2 separate regions of the Homo sapiens genome follow, and region 2 is reported to be linked to region 1. Evidence: microRNA targets listed by miRTarBase, many of them from high-throughput screens and not tested one by one. Region 1 holds a microRNA gene; the other region holds the end of a gene's coding sequence.
Evidence for each region. Region 1 holds the annotated microRNA hsa-miR-4772-5p (UGAUCAGGCAAAAUUGCAGACU, at 1,443-1,464, shown strand). A microRNA usually pairs through its seed, bases 2 to 8, with sites in the 3' UTR of a target mRNA and lowers its output. Matches are read on the target gene's strand: a 7mer-m8 pairs with bases 2 to 8, a 7mer-A1 pairs with bases 2 to 7 and ends in A, and an 8mer does both.

Region 2: the mRNA of HEBP2 is a reported target of hsa-miR-4772-5p. Seed matches in the 3' UTR shown: 8mer at 2,482-2,489.

The regions. Positions count from the first base shown.
Region 1 is chr2:102,430,858-102,434,857 of GRCh38, forward strand. It overlaps MIR4772 (microRNA 4772), which reads left to right and starts at 1,432; the gene lies at 1,432-1,509. All of the region lies in intron 3 of IL18RAP (interleukin 18 receptor accessory protein), which reads left to right.
Region 2 is chr6:138,412,514-138,417,043 of GRCh38, forward strand. HEBP2 (heme binding protein 2) reads left to right here. Exons shown (of 4, transcript NM_014320.3): 4 at 367-4,530. The coding sequence ends at 565. Among named protein-coding and RNA genes, the nearest start is that of HEBP2, 11 kb to the left of the region's middle.

The DNA of each region.
Region 1 (4,000 bases):
AAATTTTACATTTGTTGTAGTTTCTGTTTCTTAATGATTAATTACAGCTAGGATTGTTTTTATTAGTTTTGTCTATTAACCTTCATAGTAATGATAAATTGCTTTATATACCACCCTTACATTATTAATGAATTATGAATATGACTATGTATTAACTATTACCATTGAATTTTTTACTTTCATATTTTTTGTTATTAATTAGCAGGCATTCATTTCAGTTTAAATAATTCCTTTTAGCAATTCTTAAAAGTAGACCAAGTGGTGATGAACTCCCTTAGCTTTTGTTTGTCTGGGAAAGTTTAATTTCCCTCTCATTTCTGAAGGACAGCTTTGCTTGGTTGGCAGTTTGTTTGGGTTTTTTTCCTTCAACACTGAATATATCATCCCACTCTCTCCTGGCCTATATCGTTTCTGCTGAGAAATCCACTGATAGCAATATTGGGACTTTCTTGAACATGATATGTTTCTCATCTCTTGCTACTTTCAATATTCTTTCTTTGTCTTTGAATTTTTGACAATTTGATTATGATGTATCTTGGTAAACCCCTTTTGGGTTGAATTTGATTGGCAACTTCTGAGTTTCCTATGCATGAATGTCATCTTTCCCTAGATTTAGGAAATATTCAGCTGATATTCCCTTAAATATGCTTTCTGACTTCTTTTTTCTTCCATCTTCCAAAATTCCTAATATGTGAATCTTGAAGGTGTCCCATAATTTCCATAAGCCTTTTCATTCTTTTTTCTTTTTGCTCCTCTGACTAGATAATTTCAAATGTCATCTCTGACATCACGGATGCTTTCTTCTGCTTAATCAAATCTGCTGTTGATATTATAGTTCAGGTATTATATTCTTTATCTGTAGGATTTCTTTATTTTTCAAATACCCACACTTCAGGGAGAAGGATTTCTATTTAAAACTTTTTTTTCTATTTCTCTATTATTAAACTTTTCATTTTGTTTTGAAAATTGTTTTTAAAATTTATTTTATTTTTATACATATTTTCTTGTAGTTTCCTAAACTACTTTAAGAGGATTATTCTGAAGTTTTGTCAGTTATTTCTTAGATCTTTACTTCTTCCTATTTCATTATGATAGCTTTCTTAGTTTCTTTTGATGGTGACATATTTCCTTGATTTTTCATAATCATTGTTCCTTGCATTGGTGCCTATGCAGTTGAGGAAACAGCCACCTCTTTTGGTCTTTGTAGGTGATCTTTGGTGGTAGCAGACCTTCACTATGTAGTCTAGCCTGGGATTCCAGGTGGGCTAGTTGGTAGCAATCCCAGATAAGCAGACTTTGGTGTTGAGTTCTCTAGGTGGGCTTGGCTGTTTTCTGTGCACTGAGGTCAAGTGGAATTGCTTGCTGTGCTTTGCGTTCCAGTGAGACCACTTTCTGAACTCTATGGTCAGGTTGAGTCGCTGGCTGAGCTCTGTGATTGCCTCTGATCAGGCAAAATTGCAGACTGTCTTCCCAAATAGCCTGCAACTTTGCCTGATCAGAGGCAGTCACAGAGCAATACCCTTGTGTCTTCCATTCACCCACAACATGAAGGAATTGCTTAATTAACTAAAAGGGCACCCAAATGCCCTACATCTGGCCGAGAAATACTGTTGTTAGAATGTGTAGTTGGGCAGGACAACAGGCTAGGCCCTGAGGCAAAGTTAGTTATCTGGGATTGCTGCTCAGCAATTTGGGATGGGCAGGGGGAGAAACTAGGCTACAAAGATGTGTGTGGGCTTGATCTTACCCCTGGGCCAGGGATAGCCTTAGGCAGGGCATTGAGGCTTGATTGGGTTGCCACGCACCTTCTGGACCTGGGTGGGGCCAGCTGCTCCTTCTGCAGATAACTGCTGACCTGCCTTTGCCTCCTGGCCTGGGGAAGGCTGCAGGAAGGTGCTGGAGCCTGGCTGGGTCACCATGCTTGGAGATTATTAATTAAAATATTTAATGACTGAAAAAGTCAGAATTAAAGTGAGTTATTTATTATTTATGCTACTAACTTTTTCTATATATTTTTCTAATTTCTAAAAATGTAATGAAAAAATAGCCTTGGCATAAACAAACTTCATCTTAAATAAATAATAGTTACATGTAATGTAACGGCATTTTATGATCTTCAGCTAAGCAAATCCTTGACACAAGTCAAAATTATAATCAAGGGTAGTAGGAAAGTCTCTCCTGTACTGGCCTAGGGCACCGAGATATGAGTTTTGACGACATTGCTGTGACCTCCTGTTAGTAGGACTTGCACCTTGAATAACATTTCCATTGGTGGTTTAAGACAATCTCACTCATGCCACATTCTCTTGCCACACTTCTGACATGGCTGCTGGGTTGATTTTAAGCCCTATGTTGCATGGAAGGTTTTTGTTTGTTTGTTTTAGAGATAGGATCTTATTCTGCCACCTAGGTTGGAGTACAGTGGTGTAATCACAGCTCCCTGCAGTCTTGAACTTCTGGGCCCAAGTGATCCTCCAGCCTTAGCATCTCAAGTAGTTGGGACTACAGGCACATACCACTGCACCCAGCTAATTTTAAAAATTTTTTGTAGAGAAGGGGTTTCACTATGTTGCTCAGGCTGGTTTCAAATTCATGGTTTCAACCAATCCTCCTGCCTTGGCCTTCCAAAGTGCTGGGATTACAGGTGTGAGCCATCATGCCAACCACAAAGAAGTTTGTTTGTTTTTTGAGATGGAATCTCTCTCTTTGTCGCCTAGGCTAGAGCGCATCTAGCTCAGTGCACTGAGCTAGAGACTTGGCTCACTGCAACCTCCACCTCCCAGGTTCAAGCTATTCTCATGCCTCAGCCTCCCAAGTAGCTGGGATTACAGGTGTGCGCCACCACACCCAGCTAATTTTTGTATTTTTAGCAGAGATGGGGTTTCACCATGTTGGCCAGGCTGGTCTCCAACTCCTGACCTCAGGTGATCCACCTGCCTCGGCCTCTCAAAGTGCTGGGATTACAGGTGTGAGCCATCATGCCGACCCCAAAGAAGTTTTGTACCTATACCTGATACTTCTCATTTCCTAGTTCTTGTAACTGGCACCTGTTGGCATCCTGTGGGCCTAGTGCTGTGGATAACTGGTAAGCATGGTGAGACTGGCTAGATTCAAAGATTAATGTGTTTCTAAATAGAGAATAAGTTAATTTAATGTGTTTCCAAATAGGAAGAAGATAATTTAGATTATATTTCTCAAAACTGTTTCTAGGGTTGAAACATTGGCCCATTTGATTATTCTCACTATGAACATTTCAGAACTCTGAAGATCTGGACAGCTTTCTAACACCTGTTCAAAACAATCATCTGTATGCTGTCTAACCAGCACTGAAACAGAGGAAGAATTTCCTTACTTGTTCAGAACAGAATATTGCCACAGCCCCACTATTGTTTTAGCTTTGGGACAGCCTCATTATATGGTTGATTTATTCTGAGTTGGCAGGCAAGTCTTTCCACAAAAACTGAAATCAAGCAAGTTCTCTCTATTTTTGTTTGTAGAGTAGAATTTGTAACTTATGTTCATGATTTTATATTTATTTCTGTTAAATAATTTGTTGTTTTTAGTTCATTCTACATGTCAAGAGGTTGGAATTCTGATTTTGAATGCCAACATATTAGCCATCACACGCAGGTTTGTGAGGCATGTAGATGAGATCAACATGGTATGTTCTCCCTCAAGCCCCTGCTAAAACTACGGGCGAGGCTAACACCAGGGACAGAGTGCTCTGCTGTTAACTCCAGTTTGATCCTTCTAGTTACATATGATCCATTCATCCACAACGCAAGGGTGTTGCTTAATTAACTAAAAGGGCACTCGAATGCCCTATATCTGATCATTCAGCTCACAATGTACCTTTGGTTTAACAGAGAGATCATGAGAATATTTTTCAAGTGACTCACAATAGTGAAGATACTCTGTGTCTGCCATACTCCTGTGAACCTCCAGTCTATTCAGTTGTGGGCAACAATGAGATTGCCTTGATATGATTGTTGTTAGCAAA
Region 2 (4,530 bases), not on the chromosome of region 1:
CGTGATCTTGGCTCACTGCAACCTCCACCTCCCAGGTTCAAGCGATTCTCCTGCTTCAGCCTCCCAAGTAACTGGGACTACAGGCATCCGCCACCACATCTGGCTAAGTTTTGTATTTTTATTAGAGATGGGGTTTTACCATGTTGGCCAGGCTGGTCTTGAACTCCTGACCTCAAGTGATCCGCCCACCTTGGCCTCCCAAAGTCCTGGGATTACAGGTGTGAGCCACCTCGCCTGGCCGAGAGGGAGTAACTTTGGAGCTGCACTTCACTCAGCATTCACGGTACTAGCGCCCGCTTTTTGCTTCAGACTGACATTCACATCAGTATTAAAATCATTCACGGTTATTTCCTTTCTCCTTTGTAGGTCTTTCGATGGATTTTCTAGTGCCCAAAAGAATCAAGAACAACTTTTGACATTAGCAAGCATTTTAAGGGAAGATGGAAAAGTTTTCGATGAGAAGGTTTACTACACTGCAGGCTACAACAGTCCTGTCAAATTGCTTAATAGAAATAATGAAGTGTGGTTGATTCAAAAAAATGAACCCACCAAAGAAAACGAATGAGAAAAATGAAAGGAAGTTCTGCTGTCAGAGGCAAAACATCTGTTTATCATAGACATCAACATGACCTATAAGTAAAGTGCGTGTCTAGTGTCTTCTATTGAGAGTACTACTATTAATTAAGCTTATTTCCAATGTGCCTTTTTAATGCTTGAAGTTTTATCTACATACACAGGTAACAGAGGACAGTAGTCTGTAAACATATAAATCGGTCATAACTATCGTGGTCTTTATTTCTGTGAGGATCTAGGGAAATTTCATGTCACTTCCCTCCTTCACTGCATCACAATCATATTCCCTTTTTTTTTTCTTGGATTTGTGTCAGTTGGATGATATCCCCTCCAGATAGTATCAATAAAATGTTAAAATTATTTATCTTGTGTGGAACCCCTAGGCTGTCAGGCCCGGAGAGGTGAAATTCAGCTGGACACAAAAATCAAATTGTCTTTTGTGGCTGCCACCATTACATTCTCTGTTGTATGTATTACTTTCCCTCCTGCATCCTCCCACTGCCCCACTGCACAAGAATACTCCATGTAACTCCATTTAAATGTAATGAATTCATTCCTTTCTTTCTGGTCTCCACTTAACCCCCTAAAAATCTTGCTTTTTCCCCTAAACATTTCCCTGAACTGTCACGTATTTTCATTCATTCTTTAACTCATTGTAGGGAGTCCCTGCTATGTTCCAAGCACTCTGCTAAGGACTGGGAGGTGGTGGTAAGAAAACCTGTGTCCCAAGCCCCTCATCACTGACTTCCTCTTCACTAACTCCAACAACATCTTTCCACCTCCTTAACTATTTCATTCACCCTCCCACTGTGAACACCACAGACAAGGCCCCTGGCCTCATGGAGTTTACATTCTAGAGGGTGAGGGAGTTCAACACAAATAAGATGCTTGAAATTGGCAAGTGTGATGAAGAACAGAATAGGGCAGTGGGGTAGAGTGTGGTTAGGTAGGGTGTGGTGGACATCACATAAGGTGGTCAGCAAAGGCCTCTCAAGAGACAGTTGAGACTTGAATGACGAGGATGAGTCAGATGAAAGCCAGGGGCAGAGGTGAGGGGAGCATCTTGGGCAGAGGTGACAGTGTTAAAGGGAGAGGCCACGTTCAGTACCCAGAACAAAAAGCTGCACACACTGCTTGCTGAGCAAGAGAGCACTGCTCTTGTAGGGCACGGTCTCTCGGATAAAGAAAACTGCGGACCTTATGCAGGGTTTTAGGAAGGATTAACAGACTTTCAAAAGCATTTAGGAGTCGAGGGAGCTTTAGTTGTGGGGATGCAGTTACCAGAGTGAGGCCGCTGCTGATTAGCATGATTTAGAAGCCTAGTTTGGAGGTGAGGTTACTGATGGGAAATTGTCATTGATTGTTTCTGGTACTTAATTGCTACTGTGGCCAAAGGATGGTCAGTTTTATTCAGGATTTGAAGTGGTGGCAGACAACGTGAGGTGTGCCACTCAAATTCACCTTCAAGAAAGTACCAGCCGCCCAGCTGTGAGGGGTGTGGTTCGCCGACAGTCTCCCCGTTACCGTCTTCAGGGTCCACGCCAGATTTCAAGATAAGGACACACTATTCTGTGGGAGAGAGGGACCTAGTCTACAACTGAGCAAGGCAGTGGTAGCTGACAGCATGCTTTTTTCTGGCAATTCCCAGCCAATAACTGAGCAAGGTGGTGGTATAAGACCTAGCCATTTAGGCCAGGTGCAGTGGCTCACAGCTGTAATTCCAGCACTTTGGGAGGCTAAGGTGGGAGGATTGCTTGAGCCCAGAAGTTCAAGACGAGTCATGGCAACCTAGTGAGACTGTCTGTCCAAAAAATAAAAAATTAGCCAAGCGTGGTGGCACACGCCTGTATTCCTAGCTCCTGAGGTGAAAGGATTGCTTGAGCTCGGGAGGCGGAGGTTGCAGTGAGTCCTGATCATGCCACTGCACTCCAGCCTGGGTGACAGAGCAAGATCCTGTCTCAGAAAGAAAAAAAAAAGTCCTAGTCATTTCTACCAACTCGAAAGCCCTCTAATAAGCAGTCTCTGCTCTGGAGCTTTTTGGTGGGCTGCTAGAGACTTTGTTAGATCCTACCGTTCCTCTGCTCAATCCTGCTTTTCCCTTTTCCTTTCAGAGATGTCACTTCACCAGTTTTGTACTCCTAACTCCATCTCAGCCTAAAATTGGCACAATTGGTACCAGTGGCCCACGAACGTAGGTGGTAAGACAGCATTTGCAGGCTGAGTGACTCACTGTCTGGCTGGCTCGGAGGCCCCCATCCCTGGTGGATAGGTGGCACAGACAGTCCCTGGCACAAGAAGGCTGTCCAGTGATGAAGACTTCAGATGAAATGGCATGCTGGTGCAGGGGAACGCAATGACTGGTGGGTGATTTGGGTGTCTCAAATATGGGAAGGGTGGATAAAAGAGACAAGGACAGTGGGCTTCCATGGTTATTGCTGAGTTGGATTGACGTCCTGCAAGTGGATAATGAAAAGCTGAGGTCAATTAACAAACAAAACTAAGTGTGAGCCGCAGAGTCTCTGTGGTAGCTTGCCAACAATCCTCATCTCATGCTGTAGCCAAGCAGAGCAAGCTGAAGGCCAAGCACAGGATTTGATGGTAAAAGTAGCTAACAGCCAACAAATACTCAACCAAGCCAGGTCTGTTAGATCAAGGTTGGAATCAAACTTGGGATCCCAAAACATGGGATGGGAGCATTTAGTGGATCTCCCCAACCATCTGCCTCCCTAGAAAACTCCCTGAATATTCACATCCTTCAGAAGAGGCCCACCCTTCCCCATGAAGAGCTGGAACTACCCTCCCTTCCTGCCTCTTCCCTAACACAAGGGAAGACAGTGTCCAAGGTCTTTCCCCATGAAGCAAAAGGTGTCCCTCAGGACTGGTCCCTCCCCTTCTCCTGGCTACCAGGCCTATAACGAGACTTAAGTCACAACATAACTGATTGCGGCTGAGGGGTCTGATGAGGGAGAAATGGGATCTATGCCAGAGGAGCCACCTAACCTGGCAGCATGTACTGCAGGGGCCAGGGGCGTACTCTTGGGACTGGATCCTGAGGGTGCTTGGTCAAAGGGGCTGGGTTTATACAACTAGATAAAGGAGAGGGTATATTGACTTGGGGCTCTCAGGATAGAGGATTTCACACCATGAGAAAAATGCCAGGAGATAATACAGACTCACTGCTCTAGGGCAGCTTGGTAGAAGCCTAGAAAGAGTGATCAAAATGTTGAAATGCCTGAATGGCTGGGACAAACAATAGAGAAAGGAATGAGAAGGCTCAGGGAAGGGAGCATGCCAGCATGGATATATGAGGCAAGGTGACCCATCAGACAATTATGTTCCACGGGAAGGCCCAGGGGACCCATCCTTCAGCAAGGCTGCTGGGAATGCACTGATAAGCGGGCTTGGGCATCATAAAGGAGCTCAGCGGTGGCTCTCCTCGGCAGGCTGGGGCTGGCAGGAAGGGCTGTGATGGAACTTCACTTGCTGAGAGCAATGTGGATGATGATGAGACCTTGAAGAGCCCAGGTGGCAGTGCCAGCCACAGAAGCCAGGGTGCCATCAGTATCCTGTTAACCACTAAGCTCCAAATGGCAGCCGAGGGGTCCTGACCTGTAAAGTCTCATGGAAATAGTTGGTAGAACAAGGCATTCCTAGGGACAAAAGAGCTGACTAATCAACAAGGGTAAGGCTTTATATATAATCAAAAGTGAGCAAGAATTGATGAGCAGGGGACTGAGAGAGATCACTCCAATTAAAAAACAAAAACATGATTCCTTGCCAGTTTCTAGTTCAGTTTTCTGACCTAGAGCTCATTAATTGCAGAGGTGACTGTATCCTAGGGGAAAGTTTCCTGCAACATTTCAGCAGGTGTACACAGTAATGATCCCCTCATTCTTTTTCTAAAGGATCTATGGCCATTTACTCAGGTGGCTCTACCCTGGGGAAAGAGGAATACCT